Homo sapiens: one gene and its partners. The protein of the gene in region 2 binds, or shares a complex with, the protein of the main gene of each other region. Each region holds a gene or a part of one and is shown on either strand. Other genes may lie near its edges. The genes, in order: GID4, ARMC8 and GID8.

Region 1 (3,745 bases), on a different chromosome or scaffold from region 2:
GTGGCGTGATCTCAGCTCACTGCAACTTCCATCTCCCAGGTTCAAGTGATTCCCCTGCCTTAGCCTCCTGAGTAGCTGCGACTACAGGGGCATGCCAACATGCCCGGCTAATTTTTTGTATTTTTTAGTAGAGATGGGTTTTCACCATGTTGGCCAGGATGGTCTCAATCTCTTGACCTCATGATCTGCCTGCTTCAGCCTCCCAAAGTGCTGGGATTACAGGTGTGATCCACCACGCCCGGCCGATCCCCACTTCCTAAAGTGGTTAGCTATGCAAAATAAAGACCAGGAAAGGCAACTCAATATGATTCATCTTTATGAAAGCTGACAAGATTTCAAGATAAAACGACTTTTTCCCTGCAGACTGGGGACTAGGGGTTGGTATGTTCTCAAAGTTATTTAACAAACTGGCTTCCTGATTTTGCTATTCTGGGGCTGTAAATATCACGTTATCAAAGCAGGGAGCACAAATGACCTCGCAGCTAAAAGCCAATCCATCAAGTCAGTCAGGTGGGGCTCTCTGAGGTCTGCTGAGTCAAAAACCCGTGTTCCATTCCCGGTCCCTCATTTCCTGAGCTGGAGGGAAGTAGAGGAGGTGAGACTTTCCTGAGCTCTGGGAAAAGGATGTGGTGGAGGGCACCTGGCCCACGGATGGTGTTTAAGCCTGTAGAGGGATCTGGGTACAACTGATGACTAAGTTCAAAGCAAGTTTGGCTCTGCCTTGAATCCACAGAACACTTGGAGTGATTCAACTTGGGGGTTCAACAAGATTCTTGGGTGGGAGAAAGGAAAGGGAGAAGACAATGTTAGAGGCAGCCACCTAGGCCCAAATCCACTTGCTACCCACCAAAAGCACAGCGAGGAGGAGCTGTCTGGGACATCGGCAGTTAACCAGTGCGTGCCCTGGAGCTGGGCCCACTTTTTATAGGCGTGCAAAGACCCTGCCATGAAGACTTTGCCATGACAACCAGCTGTGACGAGCACTGGACATGGGGAGCCCTTGGTTAGAGTGAATATGTAGGTGCGATACAGGGCCTGGCTTGCTGGGAGTCTGGAGGGCCACCTGGTGGGAACTTACCTTCCACCTCATGAAGACGTAGTCTCCATTCTTCAGCTCTTCATAATCAAAGTCATCTGAGTTAAATGATTTTGCATACTGATAAAAAGCCAGAAACTTGCCCTGAAAGCAGAAAAGAGAGTGTGCCGATTGACTGAGAGAAGGAGAGGCTGCTCTCAGAACTATGCTTATGTGCCCAGGTAAACTCACCTTCCCAAGGCATGACAGCTAGGGACGTGGCTCCCAAAAGGGCAGCTAAGACCAAGTAACAGATGGGGCCCTATGGTCACCCCATTGAATGCAGACTCAACCCTGGGGCAGATACCTGGACTCCAGCTGGGGCCCCACTGCCCTACACCTGCCTTGTTAACATGGCTGAGGAAAAGGCCAAAGGATGGGAATGGTGAACAGACAGACAAAATAAACAGACGAAAGCTAAGAAAAATTAATGAGAAGACCTCTGCAAGTAAATCCGAAGTAGCAAAAAGAGCCATGCAAAACAGCTTAGAAACAGCCTGCCCAGTCTCAGAGAAGAGGGCTTTGTGAAGCTTGTGTCTCTGCATGATCTAGGGGCTTGGGCCAGCTAGCTAAGCAGACACTAGAAACACATGATAGCCTTGTCCTTCGATATCTGCGAGAGATTGGTTCCAGGACCCCCATGAATACCAAAATCTGCAGATGCTTAAGTCCCAGATATAAAACAGTGCAGTATTTGCAGATAACCTACACACATCCTCCCCTATACTTTATAGCATCTCTAGATTGCTTATAATACCTAATTCAATGTAAATACTAAGTGAATAGTGGTTATACTGTATCGTTCAGGGAAAAATATCAAGAACAAAAAATCTATACATCCACTGGGTGTGGGGGCTCACGCCTGTAATCCCAGCACTTGGGGAGGCCAAGGCAGGCAGATCACAAGGTCAGGAGATCAAGACCATCCTGGCTAACACGATGAAACCCTGTCTCTACTAAAAATATGAAAAAATTAGTTGGGTGTGGTGGTGGTCGCCTGTAGTCCCAGCTACTTGGGAGGCTGAGGAGGAGAATGGCGTGAACCCGGGAGGCGGAGCTTGCAATGAGCCGAGATCGTGCCACTGCACTCCAGCATGGGCAACAGAGCGAGACTCTGTCTCAAAAAAAAAAAATCTATACATCATCAGTACAGATGCAATTTTTTTTTTCAAATATTTTCAAACTGTGGCTGGTTGAATCCACAGATACAGAACCCACATATATGGAGGGCTGACTACATTTACAACAGGAGATTAGGAATAGGTTACAAAACTGTATTTTATGATCCCATTTTTTAAAAAAAAGACAAAAAACAAGTATACACTGTATACCCAAAAGAGATTCAGGAAGAGGTTAACAGCTATTTTAGTTTTAGGTGTTGCCATAGATGACTCCTTTTCCTCCAGCTTTTCTATTTTTTCAAATATTTTTAAACAAGCATGTGTTAATTTGATAAGAAAACATCTTAAATAAAAAATCAAGACACAGAGATATTAAGTCATAGATTTTGTCACATAGATTTATTTTATTATTATTTTTTGAGACAAAGTCTTGCTCTTGTTGCTCAGGCTGGAGTGCAATGGCATGATCTCAGCTCACTGCAATCTCCGCCTCCCAGGTTCAAGTGACTCTCCTGCCTCAGCCTCCCGAATAGCTGGGATTACAGGTGTGTGCCACCATGCCTGGTTAATTTTTATATTTTTGGTAGAGATGGGGTTTCACCATGTTGGCCAGGCTGTTCTCGAACTCCTGACCTCAGGTGATCCATCTGCCTCGGCCTCCCAAAGTGCTGGCATTACAGGCATGAGCCACCACACCTGGTGTCACATAGACATTTTTATCCTATGTAGACTGAATATATGGAATCCTGACTTTATAGTACCACTATAATAGCAACTTAAATACCACTCAGGAAAATCTGAGGATGCAATACAATATCTCTGATTCTAGTTTATAATGAAAAAATGACAGCCTAGGTGAAGTGTATTAGACATTGTAAATCTCAGACAAACCCAGGTGCAGTACAGAGCTCCAGGAGTCCCACGTGGGAACCTGGGAGTCCTCCATGAGTGGTGAAAGTTAGGGGAAATGCTGAGTACTACAAAAGCAGCCACAAACTGTTGGAGGAGGAAGCACTCCATAGGTTCAGCTCCCTGGCTCAACCACACCTCACATGCCAGTACCAAGGGTGGCCTTCTTAGTTCCTCTCTCACCCAAAATGTTTCAGTCCAGTCTAGCAGAGTCTGCAGATCCAGATATCTTCCAATGTTCTAACGGAAGTCAATGGGAAAATTAAGAGTTGCTTTCCAAGTATTTAATTTGTAGTCAACCTAGCCTAAAACTGAGTGTCACTGGGCCTCAAAGACTTTGCTTTTTGCAGGACCAATATGAAATGGAAAATAGAGTTGAATGGGAGAGAGGCTGTGGTTTACTACAAGGAAGAACCTTCTACTCTGGGACTGTACAGGAGAGGAAGGAGCCATCTCGTGAGGCAGCAAGCCATGCAGGAAGAGCCTAGCCCTGGGCAGGGGTGGGCGCAGATGGTACTAGGGAGCCCTTCCAACTCCACCTGCTGGTGGCCAGCACCTTCATACACCACTTGGGCTCCCCCAACCTTCTGGATACTCAGGTCTTGTGCATTCTCTTGTATCACAGAGAGACACAAATGAC
Region 2 (3,745 bases):
CCAAGGAAGTGAAACAAATGAAAACTTTCAATCATATGCATTATACAAGTTGACAACATCCAAAAAGTAAACTTCAGGTGAACTGAAGGATAAATGAAATCTAAATGAATAATTAAAGGAGAACTGAGAACAGCCAAGACACATACTATTTTTTTTTAACATAATGAGGTAAAAGTCATTGGCCTGCACTCCCACAGAATATTCCTGGGTATTACAGTCAGTGATGGAGTAACAGGCTAATCTGATCTAATACTTAGGTAAACAGTATTTCCTTAGTTGCAGTTTAAAAATAAGAAAAAATGACTGCTAAAATGGATCAGGGGAAAAATCTGTTGACAGCCTCACAAAATTATTATTGTATTGACAACTTAAGCCTTTTCAAGGTTGAGGTCTGCCACACTGCTCTAACCCTGAATCATAAGCAAATGTCCTAGGTGTTTTCAGATAGGTGAGTTTGTTTGTGGGACAAGTCAGAGAAGAGAAAAGAAACCGGTTGTAGTTACAAGACTCTAGGAACCCGACAAGTCATTTATAATCCAACTACCCTCTCAGTATCAGACTGGCTTCCACAAGTCTAAAAGATGGTCAATCAGTATTTGCCTGCTTGTTTCCAACAATAGCAAATGAACCATTGGTAAACTGACCATTCTCAGAGTCGGACAGCTCGAATTTGTTGCAAAATCCTTCGAAGTTATCTCCCAGTAACTTTCATTCCTGGTCCTGGTTCAAGAGCAACATAGTGAAAGGTGAAAGTCGTCTTTTTCTTTAAAAAAACTTTTTTTAAAAAAAAAAAAAACAGGTTTTACTTCCTGGCATGTCAATACGTTCCCTTCTTTCAACAATGGGGAAATAAATCTCACCCCCTTTTCCCCCCTTCAATGTTTGACTCCCCTTAAAGAAAAACGGAATACCAGGCACAGGGAACATAGAGTTCCTCTGACTCAGAGCCGCGACCTCTGAGCAGAGCGGAGGAAAGGGGCTTAAAAAACCACACACACTAGGAAGAGTTGCAGCTGATACGAATCACCATTGCCAAAAAGCAAACTGCTTCAGCCGGTGCCCAGGTGCTGGGACGCGATAGAAGCCGCACAGACTTGGCCTGGCAGCTCTGAGGAAATGGGGGCCAAGGAGCCTGCACCTCTTCTTGCCAAAGCCCGGGAGAGCTGAGTGGGCGCTCGTTCTCAGGCCGGCTGCAAGCCCGGCGCTTCACAAGGCAGAGCGTTCGGCCCCCGGGAAGCGGCATCGCTAAAAGGAAGGCTCAGTGAAACGCTTGGCAAAGTCCAAGCCGCGCCGCCCAGCCAGTTGTCTATAAGCCCAGCCACCCCGCCTGCCAGACGCCATCCTGGGAACCCGCACCGGCGGGAGCTCCCGGAGTTGGAAACGTCTTTGGCTCGGCCGCGGTCCCCTCTGCCCGTCTATCCCGCCTCTCCACCCTCGCTCACTCCCTGGCCCGAGACTGAGCCGGGGTCCACCCCAGGGGGTGGTGCCCAGGAGGCACACCACGCTTGGGGGAATGGTGGAGACCGGGATGAGGCTTCCTGGAGGGCGGGCGGGCGGCCGCGGCGGGTCACTCACCGAAAGGACGCTCATGCGGATTGGGGTCTCCAACAAGCACGCCATCTTGAGCCTTCCCACCCGGCTGCTGCAGGCGCCGGCGCGGGGGCCGGCACTTTCGACAGCCAACTATTGGCCAACGCTAGGCACCGCTCCCTAAAGGCAGCCAGATAGACGAGAACTGGCCACGCTCTGGACACCGCTCAAGTACCGGAAAGGCCCGCAGAAAGAAGGGCAAAAGGGAATGGCGTCAGGGGCTGTCCTACGAATCGTTCTCTCAGAAACAGCAGCTACTCTGAGCCTGGGTTAGAGGTGGAAGCGGGCAGCGGTTTCCGCATGCGCAAAGAAGATCTGCCGGCCCCACCTGCCGCTCGCGGTGGGCGGGGCCCCAGAGGCGGAGTCTCGCCCTGACGCTACGAGTTTTACGGACTGATAAATTGCAGTTTATGGATTCCAGTATTCATATTTGGAAAAAGTAGTACGTGGAGCCACATACATAGTTTGAAGTTCACTTTCATATTCATTCTCTCTCTCTGCACCAAACTCCCGGCGTCGTTATCTCCATTTTATAGGTGGGGAAATTGCGATCCCAGAACCTTTGCCAACCGTAAGAGTGATTGTTTCACGATCCGATACAGATACGTGACTTGCCTTAGCGTTGTGTGCCGGCCCCGTTTATTCTGGTGTAGTGTTAAGAATAGCCAGAATGCTTGGGTTTCTTCCTAGCTACTTGATTTATCAGCTGCTTTACCCTGGGCAAGTTATCTAACCTTCTGTTTGAGTTTCCTCATCTATAAAATAAAGGTTAATGAGGATAGAGGAGTCAACAAACGTGAAGCTCTCAGAAAAAACCTAGAACATAGAAAGCGTTATACAATATGTGTTAACATTTCTCCAGCTTCTGAGTTAAGTGGGGAAAATGGGGGCAAATATCTAAATATTTCGCACTAAAACACTCTCATAACCGAAGCTAAATAAAAGTATGCTTTCAATTATACTTGATTAATTCAGCTGTCCTACTACTTTGTGTGTGTGTGTGTGTGTGTGTGCAACACTGCCCTTGACTTGGTTGGATAAGTTTCACCTTCGTACTGCTTGCAACCAGTAAGGTTTTCACAGTATGGTTGCAATTGGCCTGTTAACATTACTTGTATTCCTTCCATTTCTATAGCCACACCCTAATTCAGGCTCTTGTAACCTCTCCCCTGGACTACAGCAATAGCCTTCCAACTGGTCTTGTAGCTGGTAGCCTCTCCCGCACTCTGCTCCTCACTGTTTTCCTGTCTTCCTCCTGTACTTGGTTTCCAAATTTAGTGTAGCATTTACCACCCCTGCTTATGGGTCTGTGTTCCTTAACAAACTGTTGAATTCCTGGAAGGCAGGAATTTTATTTTAGGTAGTCCTTCTGCTATAATACTATTTCTGAAACTTGGGTAATCTGTACACCACCTACACAATCTTTGCCAATCTGCACCTAGGTATTATTATTCATTCAATATTTTTATTTAAAGCCAATTTCAACTCATTAAAAATTTTTGGCTTTATCCTAAACCATAATACTCTGTGAAATCAAGTTTGTTGTGCTCCTTATTTTTATTCTAGTACACATTAACTACAAAAAGTTTAAATGTCCATCCATGGACCACCTAAAATCACATCATGTACTGCATACTGCAATGGGGCAGAACATAACCCTAATACATAGTATATAGAGTCATTATAACTGTATTTGATCCACACTCCATCCATTAGCTCAAGCAATACATCCTCCAGGAATTGTCTCCCCCAGGCATGGGTTAGATACCCTTTCCCCCATGCCTTCATACTTCACTTTAATTGTAGGGTGGTTTTGTTGTTGTTAATTGTTTCCGTGTTTGTCTCACTATACACTTCAAGACAGGCACTGGGAGTTTTATCTTCTAGGTTGTCTATCTCAGTGCCTAGCACAGTCACTTAGTAAATGTTTGTTGTACGAATTTTTGGCTTAGTTTGAGCCTGGGACGAAGATTTGGGTGCATTTTGTTTATTTAGTAAGTGCTTTCAGGGAACAAAATTGATAGGTCAGGGAGAGTGAAAAAAGAAAGAATAAATATTCAAGATAATTGTCCATTATTGATGCCACTGTTTATTCCTCAATCACCTCTGAAAACATACAGAATACCTCTCTGGATTGTCCATCTTGAAGCTACAG
Region 3 (3,745 bases), on a different chromosome or scaffold from region 2:
TCCCTTAGGGAGACACCCAAGCGAGAGAGAACATCGGCAGAAGAGATGGAGAGCAAGGTGAGATCAAGATGCTTTGGCCAGAGTCAATGGCTGCTGCTAGACAGATTACCGGACAAAAGAGAGGGAAGAATAGAAGATGGTCACAGGTTTCAAGCATGAGAGGCCCTGCAAGATGGGGCCACAAATAAGGAGGAAGGACTGGAAGAAGAACAGGTTTGAGAAGCAGGGCAAGTTTGACGTGACTATTAGACATGCGTCTGGAGAAATCAAGCAGGTGTCTGAATTACAGATCCTGAGCTCAGAGCTGAAAACATGAATTAGTGAAATAAGGGGCGGGGGGGGCGGTGCTGGGGCACAGGGATATTTAAAGCCAAGAATTCAGCAAAGACCATAGGAAGAGCGTAGATAGGGAATGAGAATCGCCATTACTTGGAGGATGCCAACCTTGAAGGTAAAGCAGAGAAAGTGGCACCAGCAGAAGAAAACTTGATGTGGAGCGGCAGGTAAAGTGGAGGAGAAACCAGGAGTCGCTGTCACACACGAACACCCATCTTTCGTTGTCAACTGCAAAACTCACTGAGACCAACTTTTTATTCACGACAATTAATGGTAACTTAAGGACTCATTTTCTTTTTCTTTTTTTTTTGAGACAGAGCCTCGCTCTGTCGCCCAGGCTGGAGGGCAGTGGCGCGATCATGGCTCACCGCAGCCTCGACCTCCTGGGCTCAAGCGATCCTCCCACCTCAGCCTCCAGAGTAACTGGGACAACAGGAGCGCACCACTCTGCCTGGCTAATTTTTTTATTTTTAGCAGAGAAGGGAGTCTCGCTGTTGCCACGGCTGGTCTCGAACTCGCGGGCTCAAGTGATCCGCCCACTTCGACCTCCGCCACCGCGCCCGGCCCTAGGACCAACGTTAAGAGCTCCCTAGGAAAAGGCACCTTTTCTCTCGGCCCATTCGGTGATCGGCACTCACAGCGCTTCCACTCCGGGCAGTTACGTGCGCCCATGAAAAGCAACAACTTTGTAGAACTGGCCAGTCCTGTTAGCAGGAAGAACTCGGTAGTCTCAAACTCCAGCATAAAAAGATTCAGCAGAAGAAAACACCCGTGTGCTGAAGACTCCTACTTTCCATGCCACACTTTACATCCTCACCCGCTCGGTTTCTGCTTTAAAGCAGCAGATTTTATTAAAAAGACTTCGTTACGGACGTCGCTCCTCCACAGAGACAGCTACCGCCGCCCCTCAGGCTGGCCGGGACCGCCCCAGAACACCAGCGCCTGAGGCCGCGCGCCTGGAGGCTGAGCCCTGACTGCCCCCTGGGCACCGGCGCGGGGCGGCCGTCCGGGCCTGGACTCACTGCGCGCCCCAATTCCGCACCTGCCAGCGCCGGCGCTTCCAAGGCCCCCAGAGCGGGGGCGGCGCGCACCCCGGCCACATCCCGCCTGCCCGCCCGGCCCGGCCCCGGGAGACGCTCGGCCCGGCCGCCCGGGCCCGCCGCCGCCATCTTACCGTGCGGAACCTGCCTCCCGCGCTGCGCGGTCTGGGCGGCTGCGGCTCCGCAGCCTCTCCTGGGCTGGGGAGAGGTGGCGGCCGCCGGGGCGCCCGAGTAGAAGGAGGCAGAGGTGGGGGCCGCGGCGGAGGCGGGGGCGGGGGCGGGGGCGGGGAGCGGGAGGGCAGGCGCACCGGAGGCCGCCCCTCAGCACCTCTCGCGACAGCAAGAGAGCGCGAGAGCGCGAGCCGATGACCAATGAAGCGCCCCCGCGAGGGGGCGGGGCGGACGGCCTCCCGGAAGCGCGGAACCTCAGCTTCCGTACTTGCGCAGAACTCCCCTCGCGGCGACCACGCACTACGGGTTGGCGCCAGAGTCAAAAGGCGTCGGCCCTCTGGCAAGATGGCTGCTGCGGAGGCGTTGGAGCGCGGAAATCTGGAACCGGGATGGCGACGTCTACACTGAGTCGGAGGCGAAGGTCCCAGCTTTTTTCCTGTCGTTTGCGTGAGGCCGCACGGGGTGGGGCGGGGGAAAGGCGCCGGGTGTCCGCGGCCGCCCCTCAGACGGGGAGGGAGTCCCCTCCCGACCGGCGGCCTTCCAGGGCTAGTGTCCCTGAGGTCCAGGGAGAGACGGCTGACCCGAGACCGGGCTGGGCGAGAGCTGTGCTGTCTGCGCGTTGAAGCGAGTTCCCCCGCTTTACTCGAGATGTTGTTGAGCGCGTCCTCACTCGAGGCCAGGTGGGGAATCAGAAGGGCCCTGCCCTCAGGGCGCCTCCCATGGGCTACGCCGAAGGGCGGGACGCGGCCAGGGCGCGCGGGACAAAGGAGACCCCACTTGCTTGCGGGGCGGAGTCCCGGCGGCGGCGCGGGGCAGGGCCGGGGTTACTCGGTGACTGGAGACCCTCCCGGCAGGAGCGCGGGTTGAGGCCGCACTTGGGTATTTGCGCGTTTACTTGCTTATTGCCTGTCCGCTCAGGAGGAATGCGAAGTCTGTCATTGCAGGGTCCCATGTTTCCGTTGCTGGGAAGTACCTTAAAATATTTGATAGAGCCGAAGGAAGAAATAGAGTCCTTGAGGGGCAGCTCCTGATTTCATCTGTGAGGAATTCACGGGACGGCTTCTTTCTGAAGTCAGGGGTGAGGTGGTTTCGTGTGTTTGCTTACAAGCGAGCTGAACAACGTGTAAGCTATGTCGGTCGGTCTACTCAGCGACAGTAAGTCCAGTTCGGCAAATAGGTTGGAGGAGACTGATTTTGGACATTTTCCGTTAATCGAAAGAGCTAAATCTGCAGGTATAAGGTCTTGACAAAATTATGCTTCATATGCAGAGGCAGTACATGCCAGTAATTTTTTCATTTGCAACTACATAACCCTATGGGAAACAGTTATTGGTCTTTATTTAGTTATTTATTTTGAGACGAAGTCTCACTCTCGCCCAGGCTGGAGCGCAGTGGCGCCATCTCGGCTCACTGCAACCTCCGCCTCCCGGGTTCAAGCGATTCTCCTGCCTCAGCCTCCCGAGTAGCTGGGACCACAGGGGCGCACCACCACGCCCAGCTAATTTTTGTATTTTTAGTAGAGACGGGGTTTCCCCTTGTTGGTCAGGCTGGTCTCAGTGTCTTGACCTCGTGATCCGCCCGCCTCGGACTCCCAAAGTGCTGGGATTACAGGCGTGAGCCACCGCTCCCGGCCTATTTTGATTTTATTTTATTCTATTTTTTGAGAAGGAGTCTCACTTTGTTGCCCAGGCTGGAGTGCACTGTCATGATCTCGACTCACTGCAACCTCCGCCTCCTGGGTTCAAGTGATTCTCCTGCCTCAGCCTCCCGAGTAGCTGGAACTACAGGCACCCGCCACCACGCCCGGCTACTTATTTTGTATTTTTAGTACGGGTGGGGTTTCACCATGTTGGCTAGGCTGGTCTCGAACTCCTGACCTCAAATGATCACCCACCTCGGCCTCCCAAGGTGCTCGGATTACAGTCATGAGCCACCGCATCCGGCCTATTTTTATTTTTTAAAGTTTTTTAGAGACGGGGTCTTGCCTTCTTGCCCAGGCTGGTCTCGATCTCCTGGGCTCAAGCCATCCTCCCGCCTCGGCCTCTGGGAGTGCTGGGTTTACAGGCGTCAGCCACCATGCCCAGCCTGAACGTCAAGGAGAAAGTGTGCAAGGGGATGCACGAGCAGAAAGCTTGAGTGCTAGCGCCTTAAGGCGACATTCCTTAACATTCCAGTCCAAAGAGGCTGTCTCAGTGCCT

The links.
Region 1: the proteins of ARMC8 (region 2) and GID4 are in contact, whole or in part, in a cryo-EM structure (PDB 7NSC), measured with the Homo sapiens proteins. Residues at the interface, in NP_001350870.1 of Homo sapiens: Glu309, Pro310, Asp311, Val312, Asn371, Glu373, Arg406, His409, Arg413, Ser414, Val415, Gln416, Arg419, Thr420, Gln423, Asp424, Val444, Ser448, Cys451, Asn452, Leu455, Phe457, Ala483, Val486, Asn487, Trp490, Met493, Asn494, Phe497, Gln498; in NP_076957.3 of Homo sapiens: Leu104, Ile105, Pro106, Pro107, Pro108, Pro109, Ile110, Gln114, Pro115, Gly116, Val117, Ala118, Thr119, Gly125, Gln146, His147, Tyr154, Cys156, Tyr158, Phe174, Glu176, Phe239, Val241, Pro242, His244, His292, Ser293, Ala294, Pro295, Ile296.
Region 3: the proteins of ARMC8 (region 2) and GID8 are in contact, whole or in part, in a cryo-EM structure (PDB 7NSC), measured with the Homo sapiens proteins. Residues at the interface, in NP_001350870.1 of Homo sapiens: Asn45, Val47, Ile48, Gly49, Asn50, Val85, Ser89, Met92, Arg127, Arg130, Arg161, Tyr162, Tyr166, Leu200, Ser201, Tyr202; in NP_060366.1 of Homo sapiens: Ile83, Ala84, Asn87, His90, Pro91, Glu92, Leu94, Asp95, Thr96, Tyr101, Tyr183, Glu184, Asn185.

The regions. Positions count from the first base shown.
Region 1 is NC_000017.11:18,056,303-18,060,047, reverse strand, and holds part of GID4 (glucose-induced degradation protein 4 homolog), read right to left. Parts: intron 3,346-3,745; coding exon of another isoform or gene 3,022-3,345; exon of another isoform or gene 2,577-3,021; intron 1,181-2,576; coding exon 1,079-1,180; intron 773-1,078; coding exon of another isoform or gene 749-772; exon of another isoform or gene 300-748; intron 1-299.
Region 2 is NC_000003.12:138,185,430-138,189,174, reverse strand, and holds the start of ARMC8 (armadillo repeat-containing protein 8), read right to left. Parts: upstream 1,875-3,745; 5' UTR 1,621-1,874; coding exon 1,576-1,620; intron 775-1,575; exon of another isoform or gene 648-774; coding exon of another isoform or gene 645-647; intron 1-644. UniProt on the Homo sapiens protein: Component of the CTLH E3 ubiquitin-protein ligase complex that selectively accepts ubiquitin from UBE2H and mediates ubiquitination and subsequent proteasomal degradation of the transcription factor HBP1.
Region 3 is NC_000020.11:62,936,019-62,939,763, reverse strand, and holds the start of GID8 (glucose-induced degradation protein 8 homolog), read right to left. Parts: upstream 1,618-3,745; 5' UTR 1,511-1,617; exon of another isoform or gene 940-1,510; intron 1-939. UniProt on the Homo sapiens protein: Core component of the CTLH E3 ubiquitin-protein ligase complex that selectively accepts ubiquitin from UBE2H and mediates ubiquitination and subsequent proteasomal degradation of the transcription factor HBP1.